Homo sapiens: one gene and its partner. The protein of the gene in region 1 purifies or fractionates together with the protein of each later gene. This does not show direct contact. Each region holds a gene or a part of one and is shown on either strand. Other genes may lie near its edges.

Region 1 (4,040 bases):
CATATTTTTAGTAGAGACAGGGTTTCACCATGTTGGCCAGGCTGGTCTCAAACCCCTGAACTCAAGTGATCTGCTCACCTTGGCCTCCCAAAGTACTAGGATTACAGACATAAGCCACTGTGCCCAGCCGGATTTTTATTTTTTTTTTTTGAGACAGAAACTTGCTGTGTCGCCCAGGCTGGAGTGCAGGGGCGCAATCTCTGCTCACTACAGCCTCTGCCCCTGGGTTCCAGCAATTCTCCTGCCTCAGCCTCCTGGGTAGCTGGGATTACAGGCACATGCCACCATGCCTGGCTAATTTTTGTATTTTTAGTAGAGACGGGGTTTCGCCATGTTGGTCAGGCTGGTCTCCAACTCCTGACCTCAGGTAATCCACCCGCCTTGGCCTCCCAAAGGGCTGGGATTACAGGCGTGAGCCACTGCACCTGGCCTGGGTTTTTTGTTTTTTTTTTTTTTTTGAGACTGAGTCTCGCTCTATCGCCCAGGCTGGAGTGCAGAAAGTGGCGTGATCTTGGCTCACTGCAACCTCCGCCTCCCGGGTTCAAGCAATTCTCCTGACTCAGCCTCCTGAATAGCTGGGACTACAGGCACATGCCACCACACCTGGCTAATTTTTGTATTTTTATTAGAGACAGGGTTTCACAATATTGGCCATGCTGGTCTCGAACTCCTGACCTCATGATCCACCCCCCCCTCAGCCTCCCAAAGTGCTGGGATTACAGGCATGAGCCAACACGCCTGGCCCCTTTTTTTCTCAATTTAAAATTTTTTTAGGGCCGAGCGTGGTGGCTCACACCTGTAATCCCAGAACTTTGGGAGACCAAGTTGGGTGGATAACCTGAGGTGAGGAGTTTGATACCAGCCTGGCCAACATAGTGAAACTCCATCTCTACTAAATTAAAAAAAAAAAAATTTAAATTTGTTTTCTAGAGATGGGGGTCCCACTATGTTGCCTGGGGCTAGTGTCCAACTCCTGGGCTCAAGCAGTCCACCACACCCAGCCATTCAACCTGATTTTTTTTTTGTTTGCTTTTGAGACAGAGTCTTGCTCTGTCCCCCAGGCTGGAGTGCAGTGGCATGATCTCGGCTCACTGCAACCTCCACCTCCTGGGTTCAAGTGATTCTCCTGCCTCTCCCTCCCGAGTAGCTAGGACTACAAGTGTGTACCACCACGCCCAGTTAATTTTTGTATTTTTGGTACAGACGAGGTTTCACTGTGTTGGCCAGGCTGGTCTCAAACTCCTGACCTCAGGTGACCTGCCAGCCTCAGCCTCCCAAAGTCCTGGGATTACAGGCATGAGCCAACGTGCCCACCCCAGCCTTTTCTTTTTTTCTTTTTTTTTCTTTTTTTTTTTTTTGAGACGGAGTCTCACTCTGTTGCCCAGGCTGGAATGCAGTGGCGCCATCTCAGGTCACTGCAAGCTCCGCCTTCCGGGTTCACGCCATTCTCCTGCCTCAGCCTCCCGAGTAACTGGGACTACAGATGCTCGCCACCACGCCTGGCTAAATTTTTTGTATTTTTGTAGAGTCAGGGTTTCACCGTGTTAGCCAGGATGGTCTCCATCTCCTGACCTCGTGATCTGCCTGCCTCGGCCTCCCAAAGTGCTGGGATTACAGGTGTGAGCCACCGCGCCCGGCCCCCCCAACCTTATTTTCAACCTCACCACCTCTTACCAGGGCCTTCCAGGGCCAGTGCAGTCAACCCCTTCCAGGTCCCTGCACTTCCACACTGGCTGCCTACAGTCTGTTCCCCACAACAGCCAGAGCACACCTGTGATACCCTAAGTCCCATCAAAGCCCTCCTCTGCTGCGGACCAGGGCCAACTTGGGCATCTGATGTGTGAACCACAATGCCAGAACTCACAAGACTTTTAGGGGCCTGTGGGAACGTTTTAACTTCTTTTATTTTATTTTAATAAAAATATGAAAAAGATGTTTTCTTCCTAACATGAACAGTCCTACTGCAGAACTTCTTTTATTTTATTTTATTGAGACAGGGTCTCACTTTGTCACCCAGGCTGGAGTGCAGTGGCATGATCTCGGCTCACTGCAACCTCTGCCACCTGGGCTCAAGCAATCCTCCTTCCTCAGCCCCCAAGTAGCTGGGATTACAGACGTGTACCACCACCCCCAGCTAATTTTTTGTAGAGACTGGGTTTCACCATGTTGCCCAAGCTGGTCTCAAACTCCTGAGCTCAGTAGATCCACCCACCTCAGCCTCCCGTGGTGCTAGAATTACAGGTATAATCCACGATGCCTGGCCTATTTTATTATTATTCTTTTCAGACAGGGTTTCACTCTGTTGCCAGGATGGAGTACAGTGGGACAATCATTACTCACTGCAACCTCGAACTCCCCAGCTCAAACAAACCTCCCATCTGGGCCTCCCAATTAGCTGGGACAACTCCTGGGCTCAAGTGATCCTCCCGCTTCAGCCTCCCAAAGAGCTAGGAGTAGACACATGAGCAACAATGACTGGCAAAAGCCAAAGTCTTCCTGTTGGTCCTCAAGGCCCTCAAGGTCTGACCTGTCACCCGTTCACCCTGCTTCAGCCACACTGAGCTCCTTGTGGCTCCTGGAATTCTGCACACTCTCCTGCTCGAAGGCTTTTATGCCTGTTATTCTCTCCCCACCTGGATCTCTCTTCCTTCAAATAGCCACACGGCTCCCTCCCTCAGGTCATATCTTAAATGTCACCTTTATCGGGAACACCTTCCCTGAAACGTCCCTGCCAAAATTGCGAACCACCACCTGCCACCAACTCTGACATGTCTGTCAAGTGTCACCCATGATCACACTGGGTCCTCATAACAGTCCCAGGAAAGGACACTGAGGCTCAGACAAAGGTCACTTGCTCAAGGACACACAATGAGGGGAGTTGTGACAGGAGGTCATAAGCCTAGGGACCTGCTGACCCAGAGTCCACACAGCTCACCATGACACTTCAAATTTGTCACAGGAGCAGGAAAGGGGATTGAAATGGGGTCTCACCTCATTTTCGATGGTTAAAGCAGGGGACCAGGATCTTCTGGGGATGGGCTGTGGTGCGCGGGCCTGGGGCTTCCAGCGAGGCACCTGGGCTACTGAATAGGTGCTGAAGCCCAGGGCGGGCAGTGAGGCTGAGAACAGCAGCTCCGGAGGGTGCGCCTGGCTGTCTGAGCTGGGAAATATTACCACCTCGGATAAAGGAGGAGGGAAACTGAGTCAAGAGTACCCATGGAAAGCTATACATGCATGGAGACAAAAAACTCAAGGAAGGAAAAGAGTCCTGAGATGGGGAAAGGAAATGGAGGTGTGTGTGGTGGGGGGACAGTCAGATTCCAAGGAAATGATTGCAGAGAAGATTCACCAGGTGGAAAAAAAAACCCACCGGGAGGGTGGAGAGACCATGGAGTCGGGGGAGTGAAGGAGGAAGTAGGGGAAGAAACCCTTGAGGCAGGTTCTCGGGGGAGGAAGAGGTTTGGGGGAGGACGTTTTCTGGAATGAAGGAGATGTCCATAAACAGCAATAAATTTTCCTGGGGAAGCGGGGTATTAAAATGGAGGACCAGCCAGGCACGGTGGCTCATGCCTATAATCCAGCAGGCGGAGTTTGAAGTGAGCCAAGATCGCGCCACTGCACTCCAGCCTGGGTGACAGAGCGAGACTCCGTCTCAAAAAAAAAAAAAAAAGGGAGGACCACTCACAGGAGGCATATGTTCCCAAGGGGAGACTGATATTAAGGGGCAGAGGGAGAAGATACAAGAGGGGGGAAGAGATATGCATGAGTGGGAGGTATTCATGGAAGCAGGCGATATCCATGGGGGCGATGAGGAAATGCCCACTGGGGGAGGAGTCCCAGCGGGGGAATATTCGTTGTTTGGGCTCACATCGCTGGGCACTGTCCTGCCATTGGGGTCCTTCACAACGAAAACGCCTTCGCTGACCGGCAGCCGTACCATCCAATTCACCTTCCGCCCCAGGGGATTATAAACGATGACCTGGAACTGGGGAGGCGGGGGTCAGAGAGGGCATGGGTCACAGCAGGCCTTCTCCAAACCC
Region 2 (3,500 bases), on another chromosome or scaffold:
AATACAAAAAAATTAGCCAGCGGTGGTGGTGGTGCCTGTAATCCCAGCTACTCGGGAGGCTGAGGCAGAGAATTGCTTGAACCCAGAAGGCAGAGGTTGCAGTGAGCCAAGATCGTGCCACCGCACTCCAGCCTGGGTGACAGAGTGAAACTCCGTCTCAAAAAATAAAATAAAATAAAATGGAATGAAAAGGACTTGCCTAATGTTCCCTCCCTTTCCTCACACCTCCAAGTGCTGCTCACTCTGGCTTCTGTGCTCCCTGGAAATGAAGATTCAAAATGCCACACCACTTACCCTTTCCGGAGGTGACATCAAACACCACTCCCTTCACTGCCAAGTAGATGGGCTGATCTTCCTAGAAAGCAGGGGAGAAGCTGTGAAGAGGAAGGGAAGAGCCAGCTCTTCCAGTGCAACTTAGTAAAATCTTCTCCCATCACAAGCTGAGCAAAGAGCAGTGGGTCAAGTCCCAAAGGCTTTCTGTTAAGCCTGGTCCTTGGCGAGCTTGCCACCTGCCTGGGCAGCGTCATGCCCGCACACAGAAATTTGGAAAAGTCATAAAGTCTCATGACAAGAATGTGGCAATTCTCTCCTTTATAGAGAAAATCAGGGGCCAGGCACAGTGACTCACGCCTGTAATCCCAGCACTGTGGGAGGCCAAGGCGGGCGGATCACCTGAGGTCAGGGGTTCAAGACCAGCCTGGCCAATATGGTGAAACCCTATCTCTACTAAAAATACAAAAATTAGCCGGGCATGGTGGCACATGCCTGTAATCCCAGCTGCTCGCGAGTCTGAGGCTGGAGAATTGCTTGAACCCTGGAGGCAGAGGTCGTAGTGAACCAAGATCATGCCACTGCACCCCAGCCTGGGTGACACAGTGAGACTCCGTCTCAAAAAAAAGAAAATCAGGAACAGAAGCAACTTCATGGAGATGAAAATTCAAAAGAATAGTAAATGATGAATTACTTATCAGTCCAAATTTCCTTTCCTCTTCATCAATAGACATACACGGATGTGACTGATATGAGCAATCTATTTTATATTTTGCTTCTTACAGGTAACATTCCCTCATATAAACATTTCCACCAAAATGACTGTCATTTAAACAGCTCCATGGGGCCCCATCTTTTTTTTTGAGACAGAGTTTCACTCATGCTGCCCAGGCTGGAGTGCAATGGCGCAATGTCAGCTCACTGCAACCTCCACCTTCCGGGTTCATGTGATTCTCCTGACTCAGCCTCCTGAGTAGCTGGGATTACAGGCACCCGCCACCACGCCCCGCTAATTTTTTGTCTTTTTAGTAGAGATGGGGTTTCATCATGTTGGCCAGGCTGGTCTCGAACTCCTGACCTCAGGTGATCCACCCACCTAGGCCTCCCAAAGTGCTGGGATTACCGACGTGAGCCACCATGCCCGGCGTAGGGCCCCATCTTATATTAGTGATATTGTCTACCTATTTGTTTAGCTAGCTTTCTATTTTGGGTATTTGGGTGGTTTCCAATCCTTAGAACTATAAATGGCAGCATTATGAATACATGTTTCTATCAATTACTTTCTAATTTGGTGACTTATTTCATTGAGGCCTTTATTTAAAAATTTCTCTCCACCCAGTGAATGCATAGGAAAGTGCCCTATTTCAATATATGGAATTCCTGGGCCTAAGTATATGAAAACTTAATCACTGTTTATATTTTATTAGTTTGTCCTGTAACAACATTTATAGTGCTAGAGATATGTAAGCAATGCTGTTTCCCCACCGTTCTACTAACAATGGGCTTTACACTTTTTTTTGGCTCTATTAGCAGGCATAAAATGTTACCTCAGAATTTCCCCACCAAGAAAGAATTACACAAAAAAGGATGGCATGACTTTTCTAGCTTCCATCAAGTTGGGCTCAGGCTGGGACGATGGGTACAGTCCCAAGACACCCAAGACAAGATCTCTCCTTTGTCTCAGTGCCATCAGAGGTGCAGGGGCATCAGCCAGGTGGCTCACAGCCCAGGCGAGGGTGGGAGTCGCTGCTGGGTCCATAGGAATCTCAGGCTCTGCAAGCACCTGCTGCTTGGCCTTCTCTTTGGGGTGGGCCTTAGTGTTCTTGCGCTTGTGCAGCTTATGGTGAAGGGTTTTCATGATCCCATTTAACAGACAGAGGAGCTACTGAGGCTCAGAGAAGCTAAGCAACTTGCCCAAGGAAACACACCTCACTGCCTCATAACCACTCAGGCCTGCTTCTCTGCCTGTCATATGAGGGTAACGCCCACTTGCCTCGGGAATGCTGAGGAAAAGAGTGTACGTAATACCTAGCAGGCACGACACAGGAGCTCAGCAGAGGGCTGCCTTTTATTACTCCAAACCGGCTCCTAAAGACAGGCCCTAGAGGACTGCCATTGACTCTGTGGACACTTGCTCCACCTCATCTAACACGGGTCATTTGAAACGGCCTGGATTTCCAAGCCAGCAGACGGCATTTTTCTTTGTGATGATTTACCGCCTTTCCTTTACCAGGTTTCCTTATTCCTCAGCTTTGATTATTTATCAAGTGGGATTATGTATTTATATCAATTTTAAAAATATATTACAGCTATCATTTAACCCCAGTATTTTGTCATATCTTCCATTCTGTGGCTTTCTCCTTGATACTTCTTTTCTTTTTCCTTTTTTTTTTTTTTTGAGACAGAGTCTTACTCTGTCACCCAGACTGGAGTGCAGTGGTACAATATCGGCTCACTGCAACCTCCACCTCCCCAGTTCAAGCGATTCTCCTGCCTCAGTCTCCTGAGTAGCTGGGATTACAGGCACACGCCACCATACCCAGATAATTTTTGTATTTTTAGCAGAGACAGGGTTTCACCATGTTGGCCAGGCTGGTCTCAAACTCCTAACCTCAAGTGATCTGCCCGCCTCGGCCTCCCAAAGGGCTGGGATTACAGGCATAAGCCACCATGCCCAGCCGACACTTATTTTCTATGGGCAAACAGCCATATAAATATAACATTCACATACATAAGATAAACAAAAACATGCATCTTATCACTAACACTCTTTTCTTTTTTTGTGGGGGGGGGACGGAGTCTAGCTCGGTTGCCCAGGCTGGAGTGCAGTGGCACAATCTCGGCTCACTGCAACCTCTGCCTCCCAGGTTCAAGCTATTCTCCTGCCTCAGCCTCCAGGGTAGCTGGGATTACAGACGTGTGTCACCACGCCTGGCCAATTTTTTTTTTTTTTTTTTTTTTGTATATTTAGTAGAGACAGGTTTCACCATGTTGGCCAGGCTGGTCTAGAACTCCTGACCTCAGGTAATCTGCCTGCCTTGACCTCTCAATGTGTTGGGATTATAGGCATGAGGCAACACGCCCGGCAAACAATCTTTTTTTTTTATGAGAAGGAGTTTCACTCTTGTTGCCCAGGCTGGAGTGCAATGTCATGATCTTGGCTCATCGCAACCTCCGCCTCCCGGGTTCAAGCATTTCTCCTGCCTCAGTGTCCCGAGTAGCTGGGATTA

The links. Proteins that work in one complex are often made in the same cells at the same time.
Region 2: the proteins of MAN2B1 (region 1) and NENF fractionate together in Homo sapiens (co-fractionation; one large-scale study listed by BioGRID). This does not show direct contact.

The regions. Positions count from the first base shown.
Region 1 is NC_000019.10:12,652,703-12,656,742, forward strand, and holds part of MAN2B1 (lysosomal alpha-mannosidase isoform 1 precursor), read right to left. Parts: intron 3,986-4,040; coding exon 3,869-3,985; intron 3,178-3,868; coding exon 2,992-3,177; intron 1-2,991. UniProt on the Homo sapiens protein: Necessary for the catabolism of N-linked carbohydrates released during glycoprotein turnover. Cleaves all known types of alpha-mannosidic linkages.
Region 2 is NC_000001.11:212,439,420-212,442,919, reverse strand, and holds part of NENF (neudesin precursor), read right to left. Parts: intron 356-3,500; coding exon 295-355; intron 1-294. UniProt on the Homo sapiens protein: Acts as a neurotrophic factor in postnatal mature neurons enhancing neuronal survival. Promotes cell proliferation and neurogenesis in undifferentiated neural progenitor cells at the embryonic stage and inhibits differentiation of astrocytes.